Homo sapiens: one gene and its partner. The protein of the gene in region 1 interacts with the protein of each later gene in a pairwise test. Each region holds a gene or a part of one and is shown on either strand. Other genes may lie near its edges.

The links.
Region 2: the proteins of RBM3 (region 1) and MYPOP interact in binary tests that used the Homo sapiens proteins (3 or more experiments, as listed by UniProt).

Annotation. Positions count from the first base shown.
Region 1 is NC_000023.11:48,579,060-48,581,788, reverse strand, and holds the end of RBM3 (RNA-binding protein 3), read right to left. Parts: 3' UTR 627-2,729; downstream 1-626. UniProt on the Homo sapiens protein: Cold-inducible mRNA binding protein that enhances global protein synthesis at both physiological and mild hypothermic temperatures. Reduces the relative abundance of microRNAs, when overexpressed.
Region 2 is NC_000019.10:45,895,930-45,899,682, forward strand, and holds part of MYPOP (myb-related transcription factor, partner of profilin), read right to left. Parts: intron 1-3,753. UniProt on the Homo sapiens protein: Transcriptional repressor; DNA-binding protein that specifically recognizes the core sequence 5'-YAAC[GT]G-3'. Dimerization with PFN1 reduces its DNA-binding capacity.

The sequences.
Region 1 (2,729 bases):
AAAAAAAAAAAAAAGAGCTTGTCAACTTTTACATTATCGCACAAATTAGATGATGATGCATAGAGTATTATGCCTGTTCTGGAGTTGCCTTCATCTTGAGCACACTCTTTCCCTATGGTATGTAAGCCGTGGGTTGAAGAGCAACAGCATGGTTATCTTGCTGCCACCCAAGGCCATGCTTATTTTTGAGACAGTTGTGCTCTGTCGCTCAGGCTGGAGTGCAGTGGCACGATCTGGGCTCACTGCAATCTCCACCTCCCGGGTTCAAGCCATTCTTGTGCCTCAGCCTCCCAAGAAGCTGGGATTACTTGGTGTGCGCCACTACACTCGATTAATTTTTGTATTTAGTAGAGACGGGGTTTCATCATGTTGGCCAGGCTGGTCTCAAACTCCTGACATCAGGTGATCCACCCACCTCGGCTTCCCAAAGTGTTGGGATGACAGGTGTGAGCCACTGCGCCCGTCCCCACGTCATGCTTCTAAGTCCCCCCAGTAAAGAACCCTTTACTAACAATTTTTGTCTGCCTTGTTTCTTGGCTCCTTCGGCATTTGGAGGTTTGCATACAAGGCTCTTTCATGGGAACAATGAGTAAATGGATATATGCATTAAAAAAACGAATATACTCTTTCACAGCATATTAGAAATGTTTATTAAGAATAATGGCATGAACTGCTTTTAACAATTTAGAAAAGACCCATTCCCCCCGCCCCCCCCCGCCCCCAGATCCAGGGCACTTCCTCTAAGTAAATACAAATATTTCTGTAGTGAACTGTATGCATATTCCCACTGAGTAAAGGTTATAAGAAGCCTCAGGTCAGGTCTTACCACCAAACTTGAAAACACTTGGAATGCAGCTGGGCAGGGACTTGAGCAGGTTTTGTCTTGATAAGCAGGTAAGAATGGCAGAACACTGGCTTATTGTCAACCAATGTTTTTTTATATACCTGAAGTATTCACAGCAACTTATTTTAAGAAGCTTTTTAAAAGTTCTACACCTCCACCCCCACAACTCCCCAATCCAGAACATGGAACAAGGGTGTGGAGCTGTTTGATGGACTTGGTCTGTTCTTAACATTTAATACTCTTAACTCCTAGGCCAGGTGTGGTGGCTCACGCCTGTAATCCCAGCACTTTGGGAGGCCGAGGCGGGTGGATCACTTGAGGTCAGGAGTTCAGGACCAGCCTGCCCAACACGGTGAAACCCTGTCTCTATTAATACAAAAATTAGCCGGGCGTGGTGGCAGGCACCTGTAATCCCAGCTACTTGGGAGGCTGAGGCATGAGAACTGCTTGAACCTGGGAGGCGGAGGGTACAGTGAGCCGAGATTGTGCCACTGCACTCCAGCCTGGGAGACAGAGTGAGACCCTGTCTGGAAAAAAACCAACAAAAAAACACTCCTAACCCCTGTGTGAGGTGGGTATTATTATTTCCATTTTATGGATGTTATAACTGAGGCAGAGAAGAAATTAAACTAGGAAGCAAGGATCTGAAGTGATTTCTGCCTAGGTGGGATAGGAGGGGTTGGGCTTAGGACTTGAAAGCCTAATTGAAAACCAAAAGCCAATCTCTTAATTTATTCTGGCCCTTGACAAGAGATTTGGTGAATGGTTCAGAAAGATTTTTGGTACAGACAAGTTCCAGGGCTTGAAAGTGAAAAGTAGTTACAGGCCATGTGTTTGGTCTTTGCAGGTCTTGGGATACATGTTCTCAAGGTACCTTGAGTGTTTGGGGGGTTTCTAGCCTCAGTGGGTTCTTGACAAATGTGCATCAGTTGGATGCTGAAGACAAACCAAAGTAGGAGACCAACAAGCACTTTAAGGGTGGTCGGGGGTTGACCTCAAATCTGGAACTTTATTCATCACAGACTATGGCACTATAGAGAACTGTGGGCTCTCTTCCTTAGAGCAGATAGACAGCCAGAGACTGGGACTCCCTGGGCTGGATGATCACAAAGCACATTGTAAACACAGCAGAGCAGAGCAGGTTTAGAGTTGTTATACAAATAAATTTTGGTCTTCATTGATTCCACTTAGGAACATTTTGTTGCAGGAATATTACTGATTATGGATCCTACCTCAGCTGACACTGGGGGTGAGAGGTACATTGCCATCCTGAGAGACAGGGAGCAGAGGACCCCCTCCAATCCCCCGACCTACAAGGCATTCACAGCAGTCCTCCTGCCAATTCTCACTGCCTTAGCTCCCTAAAGGCCCAGAATAAGATGCGTCCTCAGACCAAGTATCCACCTGGTGGGGTTAGCCACAATGCCCCATAGCCTGGGCCTGGCTTAGTGGGTGAGGTGGAAGTTCCCAAGTCTCCATCCACCTGCCAAAGCAAATTCATGACTGTTTGGGTTACAGGAAGAAGGGATATTGGGGCCTGTCCCAACTAGCTGGGAAACTCAGGAGGCAGGCCTCCAGGACTGGAACTAATAATACAGGGTTCCACAACGCACCAGCAAGGGAATAGGCAGCTCAGGACAATAATGTCCTGGAGTTTGCAACCTGGTGGTAACTTAGCTCAGTATTAGCCAGGTGAAAGCCATGAATACAACAGATTTTTCTGTTCCAAACTAGAACCAATGGAGGGATAACACCCATGGGGCCTCAATACAGCCACTAGAAAGAACCATGACTAAAGGGAGCAGAACTGAGGAACTAAGACCAGCTAGAATTACAAAATTACCACTTTACCACCCAAGACACACACACACCAAAAAAGATCAAA
Region 2 (3,753 bases), on another chromosome or scaffold:
CTTCTCTCAAAAACAGCCAGCCAAAGAAAGAGAGAAGATAGAGAAAAAAAAAATAACAAAAACAAAAAACCAACCATCCAGGCCGGGTGCGGTGGCTCAGCCGGTAATCCCAGCACTTTGAGAGGCCCAGGCAGGCGGATCACCTGAGGTCAGGAGTTTGAGACCAGCCTGGCCAACATGGTGAAATCCTGTCTCTACTCAAAATACAAAAATTAGCCGGGTGTGGTGGTGCACGCCTGTGATCCCAGCTACTTGGGAGGCTGAGGCACAAGAATCGCTTGAACCCTGGAGGCCGAGGTTGCAGTGACCCAAGATCACACCACTGCACTCCAGCTTGGGCGACAGCAAGAACCTGTCTCAAAAACAAACAAGCAAGCAAACAAATCAGCCACCTCCTACCCTGACTGCTGGGAGTCCAGCCTCCCTGGGCCAGCCACCAGCAGGAGGTAGGGAGGCTGGGAGACAGATGAGTAGAGCGGACAGTGACAGGACACCTGCTCCCGCCAGGCCCTGGGCTAAGCTCCCCTCTTAAGTGATTCCACCTAGTCTTCCCAGCCATTCTCTGGGGTAGGTGCTACCATGATCATCGCCCCATTTTATAGATGAGGTGATTTGAGGCTCAGAGAGAGGTGTCATAGAGTGATATGCAGAAAAGGGATTTGAACCCAGGTTGACTCCAGAGTCCATTCTTTTTTTTTTTTTTTTTTGAGACGGAGTCTCGCTCTGTCGCCCAGGCCGGACTGCGGACTGCAGTGGCGCAATCTCGGCTCACTGCAAGCTCCGCTTCCCGGGTTCACGCCATTCTCCTGCCTCAGCCTCCCGAGTAGCTGGGACTACAGGCGCCCGCCACTGCGCCCGGCTAATTTTTTGTATTTTTAGTAGAGACGGGGTTTCACCTTGTTAGCCAGGATGGTCTCGATCTCCTGACCTCATGATCCACCCGCCTCGGCCTCCCAAAGTGCTGGGATTACAGGCGTGAGCCACCGCGCCCGGCCTCTTTTGTTTTATAGAGATGGGAGCCTCGCTATATTGCCCAGGCTGGTCTCAAACTCCTGGCCTCAAATGATCCTCCCGCCTTGGCCTTCTAAAGTGCTGGGATTACCGGTGTGAGCCACTGCTCCTGGCCAGAGTCCATGGCCTTTTTTTTTTTTTGAGATAGAGGCTCACTCCATCACCCAGGCTGGAGTGCAATGGCGTAATCTCAGTTTCCTGCAATTTCTACCTCCCAGTGCAAGCAATTCTCCTGCCTCAGCCTCCCGAGGAGCTGGAATTATAGGCATATGCCACCATGCCTGGCTAATTTTTGTATTTTTAGTAGAGACAAGGTTTCACCACATTGGCCAGGCTGGTCTCAAACTCCTGGCCTCAAGGGATCCGTGTACCTCGGCCTCCCAGAGTGCTGGGATTACAGGTGTGAGCCACCACACCAGGCCAGAGTCCATGCTCCTAACCATTCCTTGGGCAAGGGCTGTGGGCCTGGGGTGTGAGTGACAAATCTTCCTTATAAGGAACGTGGGAATTGCAGAAACGTGGCTTTTCCAGTCTACTGAGTAAAAAGGAACAGAAAGTAGCCCAGCCTTCATGCCCACAAGGCTCACAGGAGTCACAGCAGTGCCCCTGCAAGAGTTTGTTTTTGGTTGTTTTGAGGAAGGGTCTCACTGTGTTGCCCAGGTTGGAGTGTAGTGGTGCGATCATGGCTCACTGCAACCTCCGCCTCCCAGGTTCAAGGGATCCTCATGCCTCAACCTCATGTGTAGCTGGGACCAAGGCGCCGGCCACCATGCCTGGCTAATTTTTGGATTATTTTGTAGAGATGGGGTCTCACTTTGTTGCCCAGGCTGGTCTTGCCCTCCTGGGATCAAGCAATCCTCCCACCTCAGCCTCCCAAAGTGCTGGGATTACAGGCATGCCTCTGTGCCTGGCTTCCACTGTTTAAAAGTTAAAATCATATTTATTTGCAAACTTTGGATCTCAGTTTCCCTACTTGTTTTCTTTTCTTTTTTTTTTTTTTTAAGACGGAGTCTCGCTCTGTCACCCAGGCTGGAGTGCAGTGGCACAATCTCGACTCACTGCAACCTCCACCTCCCAGGTTCAAGTGATTCTCCAGCCTCAGCCTCCTGAGTACCTGGGACTACAGGCGTGTGCCACCACGTCCAGCTAATTTTTGTATTTTTTAGTAGAGACGGGGTTTCGCCATGTTGGCCAGACTGGTCTTGAACTCCTAACCTCAGGTGATCCGCCCGCCTTGGCCTCCCAAAGTGCTGGGATTACAGGCATGAGCCACCGCAGCTGGCCCTCAGTTTCCCTACTTGTAAATGAGTGTGTGAGCTGGTACTACACAGAGTGCTGGGATTTCAGGCGTGAGCCACCATGCCAGGCCTGTGTATGGTTCTTTTTTTTGTTTTTTTTTGAGACTGAGTTTTGCTCTTGTTGCCCAGGCTGAAGTGCAATGGCGCGATCATGGCTCACTGCAACCTCTGCCTCCCGGGTTCAAGCGATTCTCCTGCCTCAGCCTTCCTGAGTAGCTGGGATTACAGGCATGCGCCACCACGCGTGGCTAATTTTGTATTTTTAGTAGAGACGGGGTTTCTCCATGTTGGTCAGGCTGGTCTCGAACTCCCGACCTCAGGTAAGCCACCTGCCTCAGCCTCCCAAAGAACTAGTATTACAGGCGTGAGCCACCGTGCCTGGCCAGGCCTGTGTAAGATTCTAATCGAGGATGCTCTACGCGTGTTCCTGCCTCAGAGCTTTTGCACGTGCTGTTTCCTCTAGTCTAGCAGGAGTGCCCTTCTCCCAGATGTCTGTCAGGCCTACTCTATTCCCATCTCTACTTGAATTTCACCTTCTCAGAGAAGCCCTCCCTGATTACCCTGTCTGTATAGCCCCCTTCCATGACTCACCATCCTCTGAATATGACTTATTTATCCTCTTAGTTCTCACCACCTCCTGGTATACAGTCTGTTTTGGGACTTCTTTGTGGTCTGTTTCCTCCAACTACATAGAATGTCAGCTCCAGGTCGGGTGTGGTGGCTCACGCCTGTAATCCCAGCACTTTGGGTGGCCAAGGCGGGCAGATCACCTGAGGTCGGGAGTTCGAGACCAGCCTGACCAACATGGAGAAACCCCATCTCTACTAAAAATACAAAATTAGCCAGGCATGGTGGCGCATGCCTGTAATCTCGGCTACTCGGGAGGATGAGGCAGGAGAATTGCTTGAACCTGGGAGGCGGAGGTTGCGGTGAGCCGAGATTGCGCCATTTCACTCTAGCCTGGGCAATAAGAGCAAAACTCAGTCTCAAACAAACAAACAAACAAGCAAACAAAAAAAGAATGTCGGTTCCATAAGGGAAGGGGATTTTGTCTTTTTCTCTACATTATTCCCTGCACCTACCACAGCGTCTGCCTTGGATGAGGTTCTCAATATATATTTGCTAAACGAGTGAATGAAGTGGTAACAAGTTTCTGAAAAAATAAGTTGGCCATCTCTGCTCTGGTCCTATGGGGCCATCTCACAGATGGAAACACTGAGGTTTGATTCAAGGTTTGAGAACAAGGGTCCCATGTGATTGTGTCACCTTCCTGCTTAGGAGATTTTCATGCCTCCTGAATGCCCTCAAGAGCAAGTCCAGGCCGGGCGTGGTGGCTCAGGCCTGTAATCCCAGCACTTTGGGAGGCCGAGGTGGGTGGATCACCTGAGGTCGGGAGTTCCAGACCAGCCTGGTCAACATGGTGAAATCCCATCTCTACTAAAAA